Linked DNA regions of Homo sapiens: region 2 is linked to region 1. Evidence: fine-mapped QTL for protein levels in blood plasma. Region 1 holds a variant in brackets. A gene starts in the other region. All regions are shown on their reverse strands.

Region 1 (15,524 bases):
AGGGTTCCACAGAGCACCCGCTACTGCTCGGAAGGCAGAGCACAGGGAAGACAAAACCAGAAAGCACATCAGATTCTGGAGAGGTGAAGGCGAGTGAGAATGAGGTCTGGAAAAGGTGTAGCAGGGGCAGGGTGGAGAATGAGGATCCCAGGGAAGGGTCAAGTTGTGCTCCCATTCCCAGAGAGCATCACACCTTCATGGGGAGAGTCCTCAGAGGTGGAGGACTGCCCTGGGCCTAGATTTGTTAAATGGCCCTCTCTCCTGCAGAGGAGCTTTCTGAGTACACTGCTTCACCTTCCTGATACATGGGGTTCCAGCCCTGCAGGGCGGGCTCCTTTCTCATCCTAAGGACGGGGACTTCCTGATGTTGCAACCACCCAGTGGGTTCAGCTTGCCTGCTGCCCAGACAGAGCCAATTTATCAAGACAGGAGAATTGCAATCGAGAAAGAGTAATTTACGCAGAGCCGCCGTGCAGGATACTGGACTAGAGTTTCATTATTACCAAATCAGTCTACCCGAGCATTCAGGGATCAGAGTGTTTAAGGACAACTTGGTGAGTTGGGGGGAAGCGAATGAGCCAGGAGTGCTGATTGGTCAGGGTTGGGGGGAAGCCAAAGAGCTGGACATACTGATTGGTCAGAGATGAAATCACAGGGAGTCAGAATTGTCTTCTTGCACTGAGTCAGTTCCTAGGTGGGGGCCACAAGATCAGACGAGCCAGTTTATTGAGCTGGGTGGTGCCAGCTGATCCATCAAGTGCAAGGTCTGCAAAATATCCCAAGTACTGACTTCAGGAGCAGTTGAGAGAGGGTCAGAATCGTGTAGCCTTCAGCTGCATGACTCCTAAACCATAATTTCTAATCTTGTGGCTAATTTGTCCTACAAAAGGAGTCTAGTCCTCAGGCAAGAAGGAGGTTTTGGGAAAGGGCTATTATCATCTTTGTTTTGAACTATAAACTAAGTTCCTCCCAAAGTTAGTTCAGCCTATGCCTAGGAATGAACAAGCACAGCTTGGAGGTTAGAAGCAAGATGGAGTTGGTTAAGTCAGATCTCTTTCATTGTCTCAGTCATAATTTTACAGTGGCGGTTTCAATGTCAGTTACTCCAGCCAAAGCAAGGCTTCACAGCTTTGGGGAAAATAAGCATCCTTATCCAGACCCCAAGAGAGGGTTCTTGGACCTCTCACAAGAAAGCATTTGGGGCGAGTTCATAAAGTAAAAGCCACTTTATTAAAGAAGTAAAGAAACAAAAGAATGACTACTCCATAGGCAGAGAAGCTCTGAGGACTGCTAACTGGCTATTTTTATACTTATTTCTTGATTACATACTAAACAAGGGGTGGATCTTTCATGAGTTTTCCAAGAAAGGGGCAGGGAACTGAGGGTCCCTCCCTTTTTTAGACCATACATAGTAAGTTCCGGAAGTTGCCATGGTGTTTGCAAACTGTCGTGGGAGTGTCCTTCAACATGCTAACGCATTATAATTAGCATATAGTGAGCAGTGAGGACGACCAGAAGTCACTTTTGTCACTGTCTTGGTTTTGGTGGGATTTGGCCGTCTTCTTTACCGCATCCTGACCTGTATTTTGTGATACCCGTCCTGCCAACCTCCTATGACTAAGAATGCCTAACCTCCTGGGACTGCAGCACAGCAGGCCTCAGCCTCATTTCACCCAGCCCCTATTCAAGATGGAGTCTGGCTTGAATGCCTCTGTCACCCCCAGCCTGGCCACAGAAACCACAGTTACAGTTAAGAATCTAGGGTCTAGTGGGCACAGGCCCCCTGCCAGCTGCTGCCCCTTCTTCCAGCCCTCCCGACAGCAGAGGCCTGAGACCTCTGAAGAGCAGGAAGGGAGGCAGCGGTCCCCAGCAGAGGGACAGGGACAGCCCAGCCCTGGGGACACTCTTGGCCTTGGCCTAGGCTCCAACCTGGCTCAGCCCCCTGCTCTGGAGGGGAGCCAGACACCCTGAGGCAGCACTGGTGGCCTGAAGGAGCCAAGTCTTTCAGGGGATGGGAGAAGCAGGCACCTGTGGCTCCCAGGTGCCCACCCAGTACCAGCTGGTCCTACAGAGCCCTTCCGATGCCTGCCTCAGTTACACCTCCCAGAGGCCCCGCAGGTGCACACACACACACACGTATGCACATGCGATGCACGTGTCATGCAAATACATTTATGTTATGTTAGGTTAATTACACAAGCCTCCATGACCTCCCTGTGCTGTGTTAATTACGCCAGCCTCCTGACATACTGACTGCATTTTTATAAGTACATTTTCTTATCCCAACAAACCCCCCCAAAGCTTGACAGTATTTATAAAGTATAGCAAAGCTACATTAAATATTTAGAAAAAGTTACTTTTTAGCTCATCTCTCAATTAAGAAAATTTAAAAAAACAATATTTTTAAAAATCTCTGGCTTGTCAGGCTAAAAACATTTCTATATTAAATAGCTTTATTTTTGCCTTCCAGAATAATGCCATCATGCATTCCAGGGAGAACCCCATTTCTAGAACTCAAGGGTCAAGATTTGGGAGAAATTCCCAGTTCCTCCCTTTACAGCTGTGTGAGGTGCGTGTTTTCTTCATTTAAATCTCCTGTTGGAGATTGAAATGCCCAGAATGGGGGGTAAGCGGCGCTGAGAGGAGGTCTGACGCCAGGTCTCATCCTGACAGTGGCCCGGGCTGTGTGGCTGAGCTCTTTGCTGCCCTAGAAGACTGCCTGGCAGTGAATGGCTGAAGCGTGAGGCCACAGTGCATGTAAAGTCAGCACCTGTCAGTGATTTGTCATCCTGTCTAAAAGCTAGGGACCCAGGTCTACGAGAAAAGAGATGTCTGGGTGTAATTTCCAGGGGCAGCACCCCGTCATTTAGTTATAAACCCTCAGGTTTGACAGCTTGCTAGTTTCTGTCCTGAGGACGGGTCAGCCCCCTGGGTGGGTGGTGTGGCCCCCTCCTGCGGGCCCAGGAAGGAAGGAAGTGCCACGCCCAGGGCCATCCCTGCTTCCCGCTGTCCTGGCTCATCCCAGGCCTCGGACCCAGAGTGAGGAGGGAAGGTGAAGATGGCTGTGTCCTGATCTTCATGGCGCACCCCCTCCAGGAACTCAGAGGAAACAGTGCACTCTCCCCCGAGAAGTCCCAGACACACAGCCCTCTCCATGACTTGTGTAGGGCTTAGACCAGCTAAGACCCAGGACGGACCCTCGTAGGGGAAGGAGGGGGCCCGCGTGAAAAAGCTCAGGGAGGGATCATGGCCTCCTTGGACCCTTCTGGATCCTCTCTGAGTAGAGGGTATAGGACAAGGGCAGGGCTGTTATGAGAGTGATCGGGGACCCAAACAGCCGTACAAGGGTCAGCACTGGCCGATGCTGGGGTGCGGAGCCTCTAAAAGCCTGGTCAGGCTGAGCTGGCTGGGGACCGGGGACAGGGGACCGGTCCTCAGGAGGACCCGGACGTGGTGAGAGGAGAGGGCCAGGTGCCATCCTCAGCAGACACAAGCTCCTGCACTAATACACTTTTCTCTCTTGCAGGCAGCTTGCCTGAGAGAAGCGGGTGGAAGGGGCTTTGGCTTTCTGATTCAATCTGCACTGGGCTAGGCTGCAGGGCAGCTTTGGGATGGACACTCATGGCCAAGAGGAGTGTTCTTCCCTCCTCAGGAGTGCTCGGGTCCCTCACACCTGCCTCATGTAACCACTCTCTCCGTTTTGATGAGGGAGTCACAGGCACACTGCCACTCTTGCTTCGGCTTGTGAGGAAGTAGCGAGCAGATCCCACGAATACCCAGGACAGCAGGCGGCAGGAAGCCTGGGTGACGGGGGAGAGTGAGCAGAGCTGCGGCTACGAGGCTGGGGGCCTTGGACAGGCAACGGCATCTCTGAGTGCAAGAGAAACTTCCTCTCCAATGTGCCTTCTGACTTCCCTGCCATCCAGCTCACAGAGAAGCCCAGATGGTCGAGCCCCAGGAAGGCGTTTAGCCTGCCCAGGGACCTGAGCAGGGCTGCACTCTGAGCCCATCGCAGCTTCAAAGTCTTGTATTTGTCCTTAAGGAAGGTTCCTGCTGGCATGGTCAGGAACACATTCTTACTCATTGTCAAGGAAAGACAGAGGTTTGAGGTGAGTTAATGTCACAAATCTGAAAGGGTTGATTGCGGAAACAGAGCTGGATTTGAACCTCTTCCGCACAGCAAGACAAACCCAATTTAGAATCACGACATGTGTTTCTTTTACAAACCGTAGGGCCAAGCTCCCAACCCTACCCCCCAACCAACTATGTGTGGAGGCGTCCTGACCCTGAGGCCGGCCTGGGCTAGGCAGGTCGCACCTTCATCTCTGACACCTTGTAGCTATAATTGTATCCTTTCCCCGACTTCCAGTTGATGCCATTTGCAAAGCTGCCATGAGTCCCCCTGAGGTAGCGACCATTCAGGTTTGACACATGGCAGTTTTTGTACCACCAAGCTCCCTGAAACATCACAGCACAATTTCCGGTGTTAAGATCATTGTCCTGGTCTTTGGTGGAGAAGGACTGGTTGTTGTGGAACGTCAGGGAATCTCCTGTGCAGGAGGAAATGTGAGCATCGTTACAGGCAGTAACATCATTACAGACAGTATAAGTCTTTATACCTGAGGCCTGGCCTGGTGTGTCCTCCATGTATGGTTAGGCAGGTTGTGCACTGCACAATCCAAGAAGTGCAATCCATGACTCCAGTGAATACTGCCCTGCTGTTGGCAGTGGTCTTGGCAAATTGTCTTTAGGTCTAGCCCTGCCACCTAATGTGTACTATGTTTATTTCACAGAAGAACAGGAGGCAGGGGTCAGGATCATCATTCTCTACTCTGGATTCCATCATGGCAGACCCCTTCCAGCCATGCCCCGCAGAGATATCAGCTGCTGTCACCGTGCATAGGTCCCTGCTCTGCAGAGACTTCCTTCCTACCAGATGCCCTTGCTGGGATTTCTGCAGTCATACACTGATGTGTCCCATGACCCCCATGCTACACAGAGCACAGATGTTAGTGTCTGCATGTAGAGATGGACGAATTGGCTCAGAGAGGTGAGGCCTCTTCCACAAGGCTACCAGGACACTGAGCACGCTCTCTCCACTTCCCAAACCCCCCTCAGAAGCCCAGGCCACACAGCCCCAAGCAGACACTCACCCGCACTGCCCTCCACGAAGGCCCCCAGGACCAGATTGTACTTCTCCGCCTCGTCGGCCACCTTGAATGATCTGTACTTAGCAAACTGGTAGTTGTCCTCAAAGTCCACCAGGTCTACACGGAGCTCGCTGGTTCCTGTTAGAGAAAGGTTTCAGGGTCTCAGCGGAAGGGCTCTCTACCTTTAGACATGGGAGCTGGGGATCTGGGGCAGGGCCTGGAAGGAGGTCTGGACTCCATGGAGGCAGAGGGCGGAGAGCACCGCAGCATCCCCGGGGCCTGTGTAGCTCTGACCCGGCAGGGTGTGCTGAGCAGCAGGGCAAGACTCTTGACTCCCAAATCCTAGCGGATTAGAGGCAGAGTTGGGGTTGGGCCCAAACTCCACTATGGGGCCACTGTGTCCCTCCTTCCCCTCTCAGGACCTGAGATGCCAGTGGGGCCAAGACCTGAAGAGGCCTTCATCCCAGAGCTCTGACCCTCTCCCGTCCCGATGCTGCCAGAGCCTGCAGCAGGGACGAAGCCCTCGGAGGTCCCAGTGCCACCCTGAGTGTGCTCAGGGCCCAATCCCCTGTGGGCCAAGAGGCTCTTGTGTTCCAGGCAGCCCAGGCCCAAGAGGCAGGGGCACCCCCATTCAGGGCCCCCGACCCCCAAGCCCCAGCAGCGGCCCTACCCTGGGCGGTCAGGGCGTGGATGTTGTCATTCCCCAGCCAGAACTCCCCCAGCCGACTGCCGAAGCCCTGCTTGTACGTGGCCCAGTCCCGGTAGAAGTCCACAGAGCCATCCACCCTCCGCTGGAAAACCTGTGGAGAAGCCAGGGGACAGGAGCCGGGGGGGCCAGGCCGACGTCCCACAGCACGGGGGACCCGCCCTCCAGAGGAGCAGCATTTGTAGTTGGCAGAGCATCACAGGCGGGGTCACCAGCACGCCCACCTGTTCTCCTCACAGACTCCACAGGATGAAGGAGGAAATGGGGGCTCAGAGAGGGGAGGCAACAAGCCCCAAGCCACACAGCAGGAGAGCACCCAACCTCTCCCAGCCTCCCCCAAAGGCCTGGACTTTTACCCACCGGTCATCTCCCCCATCATCTCTGACTGTCCCCGACCAGGAGAATAGAGAATTCCAGAGTGTGTTCTCCCACCAGGTGTGCAGCCTGGCCTCCGGGACTCCCAGGCTGACCGCCTCTGCCCAGCCCCACACTCACGGTCCAGCCCCCTCCGTCCGTGTCCATGTCACAGAGCACAGTCAGGGGCCGGCAGTCGGGCAGGTAGATGGTGTGCCAGCCGCTCAGGAAGTGCCCTCGGTCTAGCAGGTCCTTGCAGGTACGCGGGCCTGGGAAGGGAACCCGGGGAATGGCTGCAGGACAGGAGCCCTGGGCAGGGCACAGGCAGTAGGAGGGAGGCCTGGGAGGAAGAAGCAGGGCCATAGGCGTCTGTATGAACAGAGCGGGACTCTGAGGCCTGGACAGGGACACGGCCCCCAGGGCCACGCAGCTGTGATGGCCGCAGCCAGTTGGCCTGGCCCTCCCACCTCCCAGTGTCACCCCCACCTTCAGCTCCTGGGCACCCGGCCTTCTGGCGTAGATTATAAATAGAAAAAAATTGCCATGGAGTGTATGTAAGTTGTCTGGACAATATTTGTCACTTCCTTGAATAATTAGGGGACAAGGAAACGGGCAAGCAACCATTTTCTTCTGTTCATATTTGTCACTTCATTCTGGCAATGGCGTCGTATGACCCTGGACTTCCAGCCAAGGGCAGCCACAAGCCGTGGGAGGAGTGTGGGGGTGGTCAGTCACCTGTCAGGCACGGCTGGGGCTCCCCAGGTGCTCCTGTTCATGGATGAGAGAGGACACACGTGTCACAGTTTGGAAATCAGAGCCCTTCAGCCCCCATTGGTCCGCGGACACCATTTTCTGGGCCTCCCCAGGAGGTGATGGTATGGGTCCAGCCAAGGAGTCCCTGACCCTGGTTCTGTTGACCAAATTTTTCTTTCCCTCGAGGGATGCCTACACTGGCCCCTCCACCACATGCACCCCTTTCAGAGGTTCCTGGGGAAGCAGAGGCCACCATCCCAGAGACTGCTGAGGCCTCCACATGCCAACTAAAGGAAGCCTGGATCTTCAGGCTTCTCCTGAGGCCCCAAGGCCTGCAAACAGCCCATCTTGGTGGACACAGTAATATGATGTGGGGAGTGTTGTTTGCGGTGTGGGCACCAAACCTGCGTATTTTATGTTTAGACACAACCCATGACTGAGCCTGGGGTTTGGTGAGTGTAGGGTGGTCTTATTCTGAGTAGGTCTGTGGGTAAAGGTGAGTGAGTAAAGGGAGCTTCAATTTCCTACTGCGTATTTCTCCGATTC[C/T]TCAAAATTTATTCCTCAAGAAAATATATCAGAAAATTCTTTGTTTTAAAGCAGAGAATTTCCACTAATTCTGTGTTTGGAACTTGTTGGCATGGTTCTCCAAGCCATCCGGGGCTGATCCTGGTTTTCAAGCAGAGTCAGGAGGAGGGGACAAGACAGGGCCTCATGCTCAGGGGACAGAGGCCAGGACTGAGTGAGGCTTAGAGAGGTGGGCAGACAATCCCCCCCCACCCTCTCAAGACCACTTCCACATTAGAGGGACAGGATTTGGTCTCAGGCCCACCCACAGGGCAGATGCTCCTGCACTGAAAACCTTCCCCTACCTGAGAACCCCCCCATACAGACAGCCCCCCCACTAAGAACCCCTCCCCACACTAAAAGTCCCTCCCCGAATAATCAGAACCTCTCCCCCATCCCAGAATCTCTCCCCCATATTGACAGCTCCTCCCTCCCTGCTGATAACACCTCCCCACAGCCTGCCCACCGGGAACCCCTCCCCCAACACACACCCCAAGAACCTCTCCCTACACCACCAAGAACCCCTCCTCCGACATTGAGAACCCTGCCCCCACACTGATGACCCCACTCCCCCAAACTGAGACCCCCTACACACATTGAGACCAGCTCCCACACTGATAACCCCACTCCCCCAGACTGAGAACCCACACACACATTGAGACCCCTTCCCCCACACTGAGACCCCTGCCCTGGACTAAGCCCCAAGAGCCCTGCCTGGGCAGGCGTTGGCTCTGGCGAGGACAGCGTGGCAGCCCCAGAAGACCCGCCTCACGTTCCTCTGCAGCCAGGTCTGGAAGGGCCTTGAAGCCGCTTCTCACTCTTGTCCCCTCCTTACCGTTGGGCCCAGGTGGTCCTGCCTTCCCAGGAGGTCCAGGGGGGCCACGTTCTCCTGCAATTTCCAAAGACACTGACTTGAGGAAAACTGCCCAGCCCAGGATCAAAGGGCCCACCCTGGAGCTGGCGGCTGTCATTTCCAATCATGACCATGACCCTGCTCGTGCTACGACGTGACTGTGGCCCCGCCCAGGCTTGCCCATCCTGCACCAGAAGGTTCTAGATCCAGGACCCAGGCCTCACGGGGCTCTCCTGTTCACTCAGGGGCCGGGAGCTGGAAATCCAGAGACCATGGGTAGAATCTCGGCTCTTTTCCTTCCAAGTGTGAGAACAGAGCGAAATCCCTGGACTCTCTGAGCCTCAGTTTCCTCATCTGAGACAGGTGGAGAAGAGTGTCATGGCCTCCGTGTTGAGGTGGGAAGGTGGAGGGACACAGAGCTTGAAGTCGTGCCAGCGGCCGAGCAAAGCTGGTATTGGATCAAGGACTAGGAGACAGAGCTACAGAAGCATGTCCAAATGTGAGCTCATGAAATAGCTAAGAAAGACGCTCCCTCCATGTCAGAACCCTGTTGGGCCCTGGGAGTCAGTTCTTTTCCTGGCTCTTGCAGGGGCCTGACCCAGCTCTCGATCTAGGAACCATGGTGGGGGTGTTGCCCAACTCAGCATCTGGTTTCAAAAAGAGCAAGAGCCAGTGCCCCCAGCCATGCCTGCACCTACCTCTCTTTCCATTGGTGCCTGCCTCTCCCTTGGGCCCAGGGGCCCCAGGCAGCCCCGGACAGCCTCGGAGAATGGTGAGCTTGTCAGAGCCCTCCAGGCCCACCATCTTCACCTCTGCAGAAAAACACAGGTGGCCACTCAGTGTCACCTGGGCCTGAAGACTCCACTGAGCCATAGATATACCACTCAACTGAAAGGCATCTGCCATCTTGGTGACATCAGGACTGGGCAGATGGCTATAGCCACAGCCACCTCCCTCAGCTGGAGGGTCACCTGGAAGGGAGGTTTTCCTGCCCTGGTGGGCACTTGGTCTGTCCTCACCTCTTGGGCACTGGTCAGGCAGAAAGGTGATTTGGGGCAGAACCCTGGCCTTGGAGGCTACCCTGCCTGAAGGCAAACCTTACTTCCTCAGTACTGTGTGTCCTGAAACAAGTCCCTTAACCCCTCTGAGCCTCTGTTCCCTTACCTACCGAGGGGTGCAGGTTCATTTCAGCTCCTACCATTTAAGACAGCATCCTAATCTCGTCTGTTCTCATCTATCATATCATTGTAATCAATATCGGGTGAGAAGGACACAGGGAGAGAGGCTACCATTGCAACTCCCACGCCTGATCTTGGAGCAGATCTGAGAGTGGATGGGCTCCTGTGGGTCCACCTTGTTCCTCCACAGAGGGAGGCGTCCTTCAAGGACACTGAACAAGTTGGTGCGAAACTAGAGCTGGAATGCAGCTTGTTGTTTTTAATTAGATAACTCAAATTCAAGTGAGTGTGTTACAAAAATAACACGTGCTATTATTTGATCATTTAGAAACTCTAGAAGTATTTAAGGAAGAAAATAATGCCACCCTAACCCCACCACTCCACAACGAGCCACTAGGAGTTTCCAAGCGAATCCCCGCTGTTCCTGGCCTGTGTCACACTTCACGCCACGGATTGCTCCTTGAATGCGATGCTAGTCACAGCACACCGCAGAGCTCTGTGTCTCACATGCATTCCAGAAATCCTGACACGAATCTCTGCAAGCATCAGGAGCATCACAAATTCCTGACCCTGCATCCCAGCCCCGGGTAGACGGAGTCAGGACCTGACTCCAGAACCTGCATTTTCAACCTGCCCTCGCATGCGCCGGAGCCCATGGTTTGGCACCCGAGTGTCCCCTCGGGAGCCCCGAAGGAGGTCCAGAACTCACGGGGACAATGCCACCCTTATTGTGCCGCATCAGGGACACCATGGGAACTGCCATCTCCAGAGCCCAGCAGGTCCTGGATGGAAAGGTCCTGCAGTGCTCATCCCCGCCTGACACCCTGTCTTTCCGGGTGCTTATCCCCACCTCACACCCTGTCTCTCTGTGATGGCGACCATGGCAGAATATCTGACTGGTGTCTACCCAGCTGGCACCACAAGCCTCACCTCCCCACACAACACCATGACTACGCTTTTTACGCTTAGAGGGGGACATGTGGCCCAGGGAGACTGGAAACCTGCCTCGGTTTCCATTATGGGAGGGCAAGCAGAGGAAGCTCCGTCTCTGAGATGCCACATCCATTCGGGGCCTCTGCGTTTGTTCACATAAGATGAGGCATGCAGAGCTGCTGTCTCGTTAGACGATGCTCCACACGGCCTGGTGCAAGGCCTGGAAGCCAGGAAGCCACCAATCACGAAGCTGCCAGCTTTCAGGGACGAGAAGTTTCCAGGAGGAGGCCCTGGAGTGCCCTTACCTGGACAGGTGTCTGCCGCCTGGAGAGCCCAGGCCATGCCCAGGAAAGAGAGCAGCAGGGTGGCAGCGCCCAGGACCCCCACAGCTCTGTCCAGCTCCATCTCTTCTGGTCTTTGCTTCAAAAGGTGCCTGCCCTCTTATAGGGCTAGAGAAGCCAGCCTCCCTCAGACTCCAATTTCTCATCTTCCGAGTGACAGCCGCTTCCTCTCCGCGGGCTTGGTGACGCCAGCAGGAGGTGCGAGATCATCTCCAGGGCTGCTCCCTACCCCCCGCCCCTTGGGGATCCCATGGCGACTGTCATCCCTGCAGGGGGACGGTCTCCTTCCAGGGAACAGGCTGACTTGCTTGTGGCCTTGGGCAAAGAGCCCAGGCCCATCCTCCCACCTTTGTTCAGCGGTGAGCAGATGTCACCATGAGCTGAGAACGGGGAACAAGGAAGGGTTTGCTAAAGATGTTCTGCTTCAAAGAGGTCTCTCTCCCTTATCCGAATACCTAGAGTCCTCATGGCCAGGGCTGGTCATGGGCCACTGGTGTGGGCCTTACACAGTAACCCTCACCACATCATGAGCAGACTTGGGACTCTCCTCAGGAGGCTTGGAAACTGCCACTATGAGGTCCAGGCAGGCTGCCAGGGTGAAAAGGAGAGGAAAATGCGTGTGTGTCCACTGTTTCCTGGGGCAGTATGTAGAGCACAGGGGCACATGAACAGGAGGGAAAGGAGAGAAGAGTGGGGAGCCTGGGGGACTATGACCCAGGTACACATCTGAAGGGGAGACCTTGAGTGTGAATGCAGGGGCTTAGCCTGTAGGGAGGATGAGAGTAGGTGAATTTCACTCCTAGGGCCCAGGGAACCCCCTGAGCCCTGAGGCCAGACATCCCACCTGTAGGATGGCTGTGGACTTACTTCAGTGGTTGTGTTCGCCTTTTGGAGAAGAGCTGGCCTGAAGGTGCACTCTCGCCTTGGACTGAGCCAGGTTAGAGACAGAGACAGTAGCAGGTGGGGCCCCAGAGGCCGTATACCTAAAGCCCCCAGAGACGGAACCAGCACTGCACCTCCCACTACCACCACCGCACCCTGCCACCTGCTGCCATCGGGATGCCGAGGTGCCTTCTTCCTTGGCAAGATCAGTAGAAGGATTTTAAACTGTGACCCCAGCCCAGCAAAGCCACGCGAGAAACAAAATCCCATCGGATTTTCCTTCAATGCCCATGGAGATGTGTGGTCCTGAGACTATGACTAGTTAAGACCCCCCTCGGGTTCCGTGGTGTTTAGGGCAGACCTCTCAAGACTTAATTAAGGCTATGCCAGATGCAGATGAGGTCCAGGGATGAACCTGGGGAAGACACAGGCTCCATGGAGATGCAGATATGGAACCTAGAAAGATGGCTTGGGGGCATCTTCCTCAAAGTCCTGAAGTCACCTGCAGAGGAGCCAGGTCCCCAGAGCTGCCCAGTGAAACCCCAGCAGCCAAAATTCCGAGTCCTTAGGCAGGTTCCTTTACTGCATGCTATTTGTCCTTCCTAATAGAAGCATCTTTCAAACCTAGATGACTTAAAATTAAGTCTAGAAGGCTTTAAAAGCCCAAAGACATTATATTAATATTTTAGTGTTCAGAAATCTAAAAAAATATGCTATTTAAAGTACTTGCAATAATCAAGAGAATCTGGCCTATTGGAGTGGGTGCAGGATAACTTCAACAGAAAATGGCCAATTGAGTAATTGATTTGGCAGAGTGCATTTATGCGGAAAACTTACCGAATTCATATAAACTATTGAATCACTTTATTGGAACTCTGAGTTTATCACATGCTGAATTTAAATGATTACATTTCTAGCAGTTCATATTCAGAAGGATTTTTTAAAGTTAGACAAGGTACTAAAGGATAAATGTGGTTCTATTAAATGTATAAATGCAGTAACAATGTTTGAAGGTGTTTAGTTGGCTAAGTTAAGGAATGGACCAAGAATTATTCACAGGCTCCTTATAGGTGGTTATTAAAAGATAGAATAATAAGGTTTATAAGTCACACTTTTAAAATGAAGGCAGAATGCAGCTTTTAAAGTACACTTTTTTTTTTGAGACGGAGTTTCGCTCTTGTTGCCCGGGCTGGAGTGTAATGGCACAATCTTGGCTCACCACAACCTCCGCCTCCTGGGTTCAAGCGATTCTCCTGCCTCAGCCTCCCGAGTAGCTGGAATTACAGGCAGGCACTACCATGTCCGGCTACTTTTTGTATTTTTAGTAGAGATGGGGTTTCCCCATGTTGGTCAGGCTGGTCTCGAACTCCCGACCTCAGGTGATCCACCCACCTTGGCCTCCCTAAGTGTTGGGATTACAGGTGTGAGCCACCGCGCCAGGCCCTAAAGTAAGATTTTTAATAAATGGACATAATTAAATTTGAATTCGTTTTAGAAAGCAAAGGAAGACCTGAAAAGTCTTTGGTGAACTCAAAATTGCCCACAGATGATAACACACAAAAACCAAAGCCCTCACAGGCACCAGTGTAAATGTTGGTCAGGGGTGCTTCCAGGGGTCACGTCACTTGTTACGGGCAAGGAGGCTGAGGCTCAGAGAAGGGCAGAAGTTCCCGCAAGGCACATGGCCAGTTCATGGCTGAGCTGGCTTCCAGCCCTAGTTCCTCGGGTCCCAACTAGGGCCTTTTCTACCCCCCTGTATTAATCAGGGACAGAACTAATAGGATAGGCATATATAAAGGGGAGTTTATTAAGTATTAACTTACAGGATCACAATAGGCTGTGTGCAAGCTGAGGAGCAAGGAGACCCAATCTGAGTCTCAAAACTGAAGAACTCGGAGTCTGATGTTCGAGGGCAGGAAGGATCCAGCACAGGAGAAAGATGTAGGCTGGGAGGCTAGGCCCATCTCGCTTTTTCACATTTTTCTGCCTGCTTTTTATTCACTGACAGCTGATGAGATGGTGCCCACCAGACTGAGGGTGGGTCTGCCTTCCCCAGCCCACTGACTCAAATGTTCATCTCCTTTGGCAGCATCCTCTCAGAAACACCCAGGATCAATACTTAGCATCCTTCAATCCAATCAAGTTGACACTCAGTATTAACCATCACATCCCCCTTCCAGAAGTTTCCCTCCCACACAAGCTACCTCTGTGCCTCAGCCCAGGTCTCCACCCTCAGGGTGCCGGCTGTTCTAGGACAGGTGATGCTGTACACAGGAGACAGACCAGGCAGGCATGGATCCCATCTGTGAGGTCTCTAACATGACCACCATCTCACAAAGGCCAGGAGGAGAGAAATGGAGAACACGGCCATGAGACTCTTGTAGCAGACAGCAGTGGCTTCATGTTGCCGGAAGGTAAACTGTGATCATGGAAGAGATTTACTACAAATTCTAACGTGGCCACTAAAATAACAACCTTCTACAGATTCAAGCCATACAAAGTATGTTCTCGGACAACAATGGAATTAATTAGAAATCAAGAAAAGAAAGGTGTCTAGAAAATCCTCCCAAATATTTGGATACTAAATAACATTCTTCTAAATAAGATATAGGAAATAGAAGAGGCCAAAGGAGAAATTAGAAAGAATTTTGAATTGAATGAAAACAAAAAGGCAGTAAAATACAGTTTGCATGGTGTTCCTAAAGCACTCCTTGGGAGGCAAATTACAGTGTGAAATGTTCACTAAAAAGGAAGAAAGGTCTCAGGTCAACAGCCTCTGCTTCCGTCTCAAGAAACTAGAAAAACAAGAGTAAATTAAATCCAAAGTAGAAAAAAGAGAATGAATAATAATGAACAAGTGCAGAAAATCAATACAACCTGAAGCTGATTCTTTGAGAAGGTAAATCAAATTTATAAACCTCTAGTCAGACTGAAGAAAAGAGAAAAAAGAGGGAGAATGCAAAATATCACTATTAGGAAGAGATCAATGACCTCACTACATATTCTACAGATATTATGAGGAATATAAGGAGATATTAAGACACTTTAGCACCAACATATTCAACAGTGGAAATGAAATGGACAATTTCTTTGAACCACCAAAGTCACTCAAGAAATACCTAAGTCAAACAACTGGCGTGGTGGCTTACGCCTGTAATCCCAGCACTTTGGGAGGTCGAGGTGGGTAGATCACCTGAAGTCAGTTCGAGACCAGCCTGGCCAACGTGGCAAAACCCCTTCTCTACTAAAAATACAAAAATTAGCTGGTGTGGTGGTAGGCACCTGTAATCTCAGCTTCTCGGGAGGCTGAGGCAGGAGAATTGCTTGAACCCAGGAGGCAGAGGTTGCAGTGAGCCAAGATCGTGCCATTGCACTCCAGCCTGGGTGACAAGAGGGAAACTCCACCTCAAAACAAAACAAAACAAAACTATACATATAAAATAAATTGAAATTGTAGTTAAGCCTTTATTTTTATTATAAAGAAGTTTATCAGGATAATGTGGTACTGATGTGAAGGTAGACATATAGACCAATGGAACAGACAAGAGAGCCCATGAAGAAATAGAGAGTCTACAGAATAGAGAGCCCAGCAAAAAAATCTCCAGGCCCAGACAGCGTCACTGATGAAATCTACCAAACATTTAAGGAAGAAATAATAGCAATTCTTCCCACATTCCTTCTGAAAATCAGAAAGTTACAACTACTTTATCATTCATTCTATGAGGCCAGCATTTCCCCAATAGCAAAAGTAGATAAAAATCATTGCAAGAAAAAAATAACTATAGACTGATAGCCCTCATGAACATAGAT
Region 2 (8,405 bases), not on the chromosome of region 1:
ACCTGGCGCAGAGTAGGCCCTCAAGAAGTATTTGCTGAAAAAAATTAAGATTTAGTGAATAAACTACTAATCACTGGCTTGTTCATTTCCATCATGAAAATGGCTCACGGCCATTCCTGCCCCAGGGCTCACAGTCCAGGGTAGGAGGGAAGAGGGGAGGGCCACATGTAAACAATTATTTACTGCACAAGAGTCTAGCCCTTTCATGATAAAAGCAACCTTGAGCTTGGACCAGGCTAGCAATTATTAATTTTCCCTTCTTTCACAATTCCTAAATTTCATTCACTCTTCTCCCTTTTATTGATGAGGAAATTGAGCTAAGAGAGCATCTTACATCATAAATAAGAAAACACTTGCTGTTCTTGTCTTCTTAGTCAAGGCCTGGCAAACTCCTATCCAACCTTTGAAACCCATCTCAAGTATCATTCACTCCCTTAATGAAGTCCTCCCAGAATACTCAAGGGCTTACTTCAGATTCCACACCCTCAGTTTATACACATCTCTCATTGTGTTTCGTATTACATCTACGTATGTGACACTCTATTGAAACAGACTGTAAATTCCTCGAGGAAGGGACATTATTCATTCAGGCATTTTCATATCTACCATGCACCGGACACAGTGCATCTTCGAAGGGTAAGGGGAGACTGTGCTCAGCCAGCAGGGATAACATGTACTTGGGCATAATGGTTAAGAGCAGAGGTTCTACACTCAGACTCCTTGAGAGCGAATTCAAGCCCCAATATTTACTAGTTGTGTTAACTCTGAACAAACTAACCTCAGTTTCCTGTGTAAAACAAAGACAGTAATAGTAACAACCTGATAGCATTGTGTGGACAATAAATGGTTCACCACCATAAAATGCCTACAACTGTGCCTGGCACATAGCAAGAGCTCTACATGTGTTAGGCATTCTCCTAAATGTCTGTTTCCCCACGAGGCTAACGAGGGCTCCAGTGAATTACTATGGCGCTCACCATCATCACTAACGAGGATTAAGTCTCCGGGTTAGAGAGGCACATGTAAACAAATACTCACATACAAGATTTTGGGTGTCCTAACAGCCTTTCCAACCCTAAAATAGCATTCACTTCCATGCTAGAGTGAAAGGAAATTTTAGTCTTTTATTTCGTTTTCCTGTAATCGCAGAGCATCTTACGCTGCCAACTCAAACCCAGCAGCAGCCGGGTCTGTTCCTCAGCCCGTCCTCTTGCATCTCTCAGGGATGTCTCTGCACCCAAACACCATGTCCCACACAGAACCCTTCCCAATACACGCCTCCGGCTCCCTTCTTCTCGTCCTCGTGGCTAGAGCGTCCGCCACTCTTCTCTTGCTTATTCAGGTGATCTCCAGGGATGAGGCCATGACCCCCGTTTCACAGACGAAGAAACCGAAGCTCACAAAGAAAAAGTGCGCGGGGTTCAAGCCAAGAGCCTGGACCGGAGACCCGAGTCTACTGACCCAAGGGGAGAGCAGGAAACAGGGAGAAGGCAGGAGCCAGGCGGGGCGACCGGCTCGCGACCCCACACTCTCACCGTCCCCCTCTCCCCGCCCCTGCGCCATGGCCGCCTCTCCGCGACAACCCGCAGAGCCTGGACCACACTCCGACACATAACTCCCACTAAACTCCAGACGTCGGTACCCGCCTTGCCCAGGCCGGGCTCAAGTACCTGAGATCGCCGCCGCTGAAGCTGCCGCCATCTCGCGTCGCCTCTGCTGCGTCGAGCCGCCCGCGGCCATTCCACTCCCTCCTTGGGCCCGCCTCTCCCATTCGAATTCCCCGGTGCCCCGCCCCCTCTCCCAGGTTCCACCAATCAAGACTACGCGCCGCCGGAAGCTGCTGCGTGTGGGTCGCCACTATCCCGCCTTCCAGCGCTCGCCTCCGGGTCCCCAAGAAAAGGTTCCCCTGGTCAGGACGCATGCGCGCGCGTGGGCCGCGCAGCCGTTGATGTCTGGAAGCGCGCTGCGATACAAACCCCTACGCAGGGATGTTGGCGACGGTGGCCGCTGGGGGAGCTGCTCAGCGCCGCCCGGCACTGGGCTCCCTTTCCCTTTACTTTCTGCAGTTTCTTGCCTCCGTGGGTGGTTGGCGCGTCTGCGGAGCCAGGGTCGTTGTGTGGATCGTGGGACTGCAGCCCCAGCCAAAGGGCTATCACGTCTGGTCGGTTCTGTAGATCTGGGCCCCAGGGGCTGGACTCTGGGCAGTCACGTTGCAGTCGCTGCCTGCTGGGCCCAAGGCCACTGTAGGTCCCCTCGCGTCCGTGTCAGCCCAGGAGAGCAGCTTGGATGTTCCTGTCTTTATAACTTGGCACTCAGCACGTCGGCGAAGCGTGGAAAACGCTTAGTCTGTGATTCAGTCCCACTCACCCACGGTTCCGGTTCCCAGTCCTTAAGAGTACAGCAGTCCGTTGAGTAGCTCTCTGTCCTTTCTGAAGGGTTGGCTAGGGACGGTCATTCCACTTTTGAGCACCAGGTAGGTAGGGCCCAGGTTTAGACATTATGTTCCACCCTGTTGAACAACAAAACAAAACACGGGCCGGGCGCGGTGGCTCAGTCCTGTAATCCCAGCACTTTGGGAGGCTGAGGCGGGAGGCTCACCTGAGGTGAGGAGCTCGAGACCAGCCTGGCCAACATGGCGAAACCCCGTCTCTACTAAAAACACAAAAATTAGCCGGGGATGGTGGCACGCCTGTAGTCCTAGCTACTCGGGAGGCTGAGGCAGGAGAATCGCTTGAACCCGGGAGGTGTAGGTTGCAATGAGCCGAGATGGTGCCACCGCACTCCAGCCACGGCGCCAGAGTGAGACTCCGTCTCAAAACAAAAAACACAAATCTTAGATCAGTGTTTCTGAAACGTTTTGCCTTGGGATCCCACTACAGTTTTTAAAAATGAGGCCTCCAAAGATGTTTTGTGTATATGAGGGTTTTTGTTTTTTTGTTTTTGAGACGGGGTTTCACTTCCATCTCCCAGGCTAGAGTGCAGTGGCTCAATCTCGGTTCACTCCAACCTCTGCCTCTTGGGTTCAAGTGATTCTCCTGCCTCAGCCTCCCGAGTAGCTGGGATTACAGGTGTGCACCACCACGCTCAGCTAATTTTTGTATTTTTATGGAGACAGGGTTTCACCATGTTGGCCAGGCTGGTCTCAAACTCCTGACCTCAAGTGATCCACCCGCCTTGGCCTCCCAAAGTGCTGGGATTACAGGTGTGAACCACCAGGCCTGGCCGTATATACTGTGTGTGAAGTGAAACTAAATTAAAGTTGACATTAATGAATTTAAAAATTACAGTAAAAAACCCATAGACATAAAAAGGACATCTAAGTAGTGGTTGCCAGGGGATGGTGAGGGGCTGAGGAGCTGGCACTACAGCAATAGATATAACGAGTTTCTTTTGGGGGTGATGGAAATATTAAATATTTTGGAATGAAGTAGTGATGATGGCTGCGTAACGTAATAAACATACTAAAAACCAGAGAGGTGTGCACTTTTTTTTTTTGAGACATAGTCTCTCTCTGTTGCTCAGGCTGGAGTGCAGTGGCGCAATCTCAGCTCACCGTAACCTCCGCCTCCTGGGTTCAAGCAATTCTCCTGCCTCAGCCTCCCGAGTAGCTGGGATTACAGGCATGCACCACCGTGCATGGCTGATTTTGTGTTTTTAGTAGAGACGGGGTTTCTCCATGTTGGTCAGGCTGGTCTTGAACTCATGACCTCAGGTGATCCATCCGCCTCGGCCTCCCAAAGTGCTGGGATTACAGACGTGAGCTACCAAGCCCTGCCTAGACCTCCATCTCTTTTTTTTTTTGAGACGGAGTCTCGCTCTGTGGCCCAGGCCGGAGTGCAGTGGCGCCATCTCGGCTCACTGCAAGCTCCACCTCCCGGGTTCACGCCACTCTTCTGCCTCAGCCTCCCGAGTAGCTGGGACTACAGGCACCTGCCACCACGCCCGGCTAATTTTTTGTATTTTTAGTAGAGACGGGGTTTCACCGTGTTAGCCAGGATGGTCTTGATATCCTGACCTCGTGATCCACCCGCCTCGGCCTCCCAAAGTGCTGGGATTACAGGCGTGAGCCACTGTGCCTGGCCTACCTCCATCTCTTAAAAAATAAAATTAGCCAGGCATGGTGGCACACACCTATATTCCCAGCTACTTGGGAGGCTGAGGTGGGAGGATTGCTTAAGCCCAGGAGTTTGAGGCTGCAGTGAGCCGTGATGGTGCCACTGCACTCTGGCTTCAGTGACAGAGGGAGACCTTGTCTCAAAGACACACAAAAAAACTAGATTCTCATATCTGCTTCTGCATTCATGCTGTTGTGATGTCACATATAATATAGTATTTTGAATACTCCACTATATACTTGAGAAACAATGCAAGAGAAGTCAATTGGTATCTTAGTTTTATTATGAAAATAGTTTTGAACTTGTAGACCCACTGAAAGTGTCTCAGGGACTCCCAGAAGTCTCTGGACCATACTTTGAGAACATCTGACATTGGCAATTGGCAGTTTGGTCTTCCTTGCCTGTCAGAAAAGGCTGTTCAGTTTTCACATTTGTTGTCAACTCCAGATATTTGGTAAGAAACCTGCCAGAAATAGTGAAAAGAGCATAGATCAAGGAGATAGGGCTTCTATGTTTGAATAAACCATTTAGGTACAGGGCCTTGGTGCCAGGCTGCCCAGACCAGAGATTTAGCCTCTTTGTGCCTCCATTTCCTCAGATATTAAAAGGGAATAATGGTTGAAATACCTCCTAGGGTTGTTTTAAGGATCTGCATCTGGCTGGTAGAAATTAGGGTGGTTTGGCCAGGCGTGGTGGCTCATGCCTGTAATCTCAACACTTTGGGAGGCTGAGGCGGGCAGATCACCTGAAGTCAGGAGTTTGACACTAGCCTGGCCAACATGGGGAAACCCTGTCTCTACTAAAGACACAAAAATTACCCCGGCGTGGTGGCACACACCTGTAATCCCAGCTATTCAGGAGGCTGAGGCAGGAGAATCACTTGAACACAGGAGTTGGAGGTTGCAGTGAGCTGAGATTGCACCACTGCACTCCAGCCTGAGGGACAGAGCAAGACTCCATCTGAAAGAAAAAAAATTAGCCAGATGTGGTGGCATGTGCCTATAGTCCCAGCTACTTGGGAGACTGAGGCAGGAGGATCGCTTGAACCCAGGAAGTGGAGGTTGCAGTGAGCTGAGGTCATGCCTGTGCACTCCTGCTGGGATGACAGAGAAAGAAACAATTGATTTTTAAAAAATAACTTCCAGGCCGGGTGCAGTGGCTCACGCCTGTAATCTCAGCACTTTGGGAGGCTGAGGCAGGCAGATCATGAGGTCAGGAGATCGAGGCCATCCTGACTAACACGGTGAAACCCCGTCTCTACTAAAAATACAAAAAACTAGCTGGGCGTGGTGGCGGGTGCCTGTAGTTCCAGCTACTCGGAAGGCTGAGGCAGGAGAATGGCGTTAACTCGGGAGGCAGAGCTTGCAGTGAGCCGAGATGGCACCACTGCACTCCAGCCTGGGTGACAGTTGGAGACTCCTCAAAAAAAGGCTGCTCACGATGGCTCACGCCTGTAATCCCAGCACTTTAGGAGGCCGAGATGGGCGGATCACAAGGTCAGGAGATTGAGACCATCCTGGCTAACACGGTGAAACCCCGTCTCTACTAAAAATACAAAAAATTAGCCAGGTGTGGGGCGGGCGCCTGTAGTCCCAGCTACTCGGGAGGCTGAGGCAGAAGGATGGCGTGAACCCAGGAGGCGGAGCTTGCAGTGAGCCGAGATGGCGCCACTGCACTCCAGCCTGGGCGACAGAGTGAGACTCTGTCTCAAAAAAAAAAAAAAAAAAAAAAATTCCAAACTATGTCTTTAAAAGAAGCAAAGGAGGTCAGATGTAGTGGCTCATTCCTGTAATCCCAGCACTTTGGGAGGCTAAGGTGGGAGGATAGCTTGGGTCTAGGAGTCCAAGACCAGTCTGGGCAACCTAGTGAGACCCTTCTCTACAAAACATTTTAAAATTAGCCAAGTGTGGTGGCGCATGCCTGTACTCCCAGCTACTTGGGAAGTTGAGGTGGGAGGATCACTTGAGCCCAGGAGGCTAGGTTGTGGTGAGCGGAGATCATGCCGCTATTGTATTCCAGCCTGGGCAAAAGTAAAACATAGAGTTTGTGCCATAAAAGATAATTAGTGGGTCTAGGCCTGGCGCGGTGGCTCATGCCTGTAATCCCAGCACTTTGGGAGGCCGAGGCGGGCAGATCACGAGGTCAGGAGATCGAGACCATCCTGGCTAACACGGTGAAACCCCGTCTCTACTAAAAATACAACAAATTAGCCAGGCGTGGTGGCGGACGCCTGTAGTCCCAGCTACTCGGGAGGCTGAGACAGGAGAATGGCGTGAACCTGGGAGGCGGAGCTTGCAGTGATGCACTCCAGCCTGGGTGACAGAACGAGACTCCGTCTCAAAAAATAATAATAATAAAATAAAATAATAATAATAATAATTAGTGGGTGAGGCCGATGATTCTGTCCTTCAAATATGTGAAGATTAAATTAAGGTCATCTGGGACACAGCAGCAGTGATGGAGAAGAGAATGGGGGCTGGACGATAGAGGACCAGACCTGGAGGGTCTCGTGGAGAAGGGGTCCTCGAAGAGATAATGGAGCACCATGGGTGGCCAGGAAGCTATGCCAGTCTATCCCACGTGGACACCCTTTGCCTTCACTTTTATGTACTTTGATATAACAGCCGCATTGGCCGGGGCGGGGCACTACCAAAAGGCAGGACTCAGCCTGGGGTCCTGCTTCCCAGCCCCCAGGTAGCTCTCTGTAGAGGGTCCTTCCCTGCAGGCAATGAGCTCCCCGTTTGTAGCGGCTGTGCATGGGTTAATTGATGTCTTCATTGGAATGGTGAGGCTGGGTCTGCAGAAGAGGAAAGAAAAGAGTATGTTAATTAAAACTGTCAACTAAAGAAAAACTCAGGCTTTTAAAGAATTAGTTTTATTCACAAATCTTACCTAGAATGGCAACCCGTGAGCGACTTTGAGAGAGTTTCTGTTAGACTGCTCCAGCCCGTAGTTTGCGTGCGGGTGCTGGTGGGTCTGCCCTGCAGAGAGTTGCGTTAGCAACCATCCCTCCCTCCAGCGCTCGCCTCCGGGTCCCTAAGGAAAACGTTCCCCTGGTCAGGACGCTGGAGCGCGCATGGGCCTCGCAGCCATTGACGACTGGACGCGAGCTGCGGTACAAACCCCGACGCGGAGACGTTGGCGACAGTGGCCGCTGGGGGAGCTGCTGAGTGCCGCCCAGCACTGGGCTCCCTTTCCCTTCACTCTCGGCAGTTTCTTGCCTCCGTGGGTGGTTGGCGCGTCTGCGGAGCCAGAGTCGTTGTGTGGATCGTGGGACTGCAGCCCCAGCCAAAGGGCTGTCACGTCTGGTCGGTTCCGTCACCCACGGTTCCGGTTTCCAGTCGTTAAGGGTCCAGCAGTCTGTTAAGTAGCTCCCTGTCCCTTCTGGAAGCTTGGCCAGGGAAGGTCATTCCACCTTTGAGTTCCAGGTAGGTAAGGCCCTGGTTTAGACATTATGTTCCACTTGATTGAACAACAAAACAAAACAAAACACAAATCTTAGATCAGTGTTTCTCAAACGTTTAGCCTTGGGATCCCATTAGTCTTAAAAAATGAGGCCTCTAGCCTGGGCGTGGTGGCTCACGCCTGTAATCCCAGCACTTTGGGAGGCCGAGGCAGGTGCATCACGAGGTCAGGCGTTCAAGACCAGCCTGGCCAACATAGTGAAAACCCCTCTCTACTAAAAATAAAAAAATTAGCAGGGTGTGGTGGCAGGCGCCTGTATTCCCAGCTACTGGGGAGGCTGGGGCAGGAGAATCGCTTGAATCTGGGAGGTGGATGTTGCAGTGAGCCGAGATCACGCCACTGCACTCCAGCCTGGGCAACAGTGCAAGACTCCATCTCAAAAAAAAAAAAAAAAACAAAAATGAGGCCTCTAAAGATGCTCCGTATATATGGGTTTTGATCCATATTTACTGTATTCAAAATGAAACCAAATTAAAGTAACATCAGTGAACTTTCAAATTACAATAGCAAACCCACAGACATAGAAAGTACACCTGAGTGGTGGTTGCCAGGGGATGACAAGGGGTTGAGTAATTGGCACTACAGTGAACAGATGTAACTGCTTTCTTTTGGGGGTGGTGGAAGTGTTCTGGAATGAGGTAGTGGTAATGGTTGTACAATACAGTGAATATACTAAAAACCATGAAAGTGTACACTTTTAAAATGGCATTTTTTTCTTCTTATTAGAGACAAGGTCTCACTGTGTCACCCAGGTCGGAGTGCACTGGTACAATCATAGCTCATGGCAACCTCAAACTCCAAGGTTCAAGTGATCCTCCTGCCTTG

Which allele goes with the higher level. Positions count from the first base shown, and alleles are read on the strand shown. Strength reflects both the effect of a copy and how common the allele is.
With allele T in place of C in region 1, the plasma level of the protein whose gene starts at base 1,749 in region 2 is higher (weak association).

The links. A credible set is the group of variants that fine-mapping cannot tell apart. PIP is the chance, under the fine-mapping model, that this variant and not a neighbour inherited with it causes the effect. The UK Biobank Pharma Proteomics Project read protein levels with antibody pairs (Olink). The fine-mapping took linkage between variants from a reference panel, not from the people measured, so its PIPs are less certain.
Region 2: it holds the start of KIF22, and the variant in region 1 is the best candidate, but not a certain one, in a credible set for the plasma level of the KIF22 protein (UK Biobank, PIP 0.71).

What each region holds. Positions count from the first base shown.
Region 1 is chr9:134,876,194-134,891,717 of GRCh38, reverse strand. FCN2 (ficolin 2) reads right to left here and starts at 10,908. Exons shown (of 8, transcript NM_004108.3): 1 at 10,797-10,908; 2 at 9,079-9,192; 3 at 8,363-8,416; 4 at 6,946-6,978; 5 at 6,352-6,479; 6 at 5,821-5,950; 7 at 5,154-5,288; 8 at 4,195-4,550. The coding sequence starts at 10,896. The coding sequence ends at 4,303. RefSeq lists an enhancer at 1,413-1,913. The variant C/T (reference allele first, on the strand shown) is at 7,510.
Region 2 is chr16:29,784,095-29,792,499 of GRCh38, reverse strand. KIF22 (kinesin family member 22) reads right to left here and starts at 1,749. Exons shown (of 14, transcript NM_007317.3): 1 at 1,671-1,749. The coding sequence starts at 1,740. It overlaps LOC124903675 (a long non-coding RNA gene), which reads left to right and starts at 7,167. Exons shown (of 2, transcript XR_007065048.1): 1 at 7,167-7,543. LOC105371167 (a long non-coding RNA gene) reads right to left here and starts at 4,987. Exons shown (of 2, transcript XR_950983.1): 1 at 4,954-4,987; 2 at 4,377-4,578. RefSeq lists enhancers at 1,939-2,338, 7,129-7,218 and a silencer at 8,075-8,214.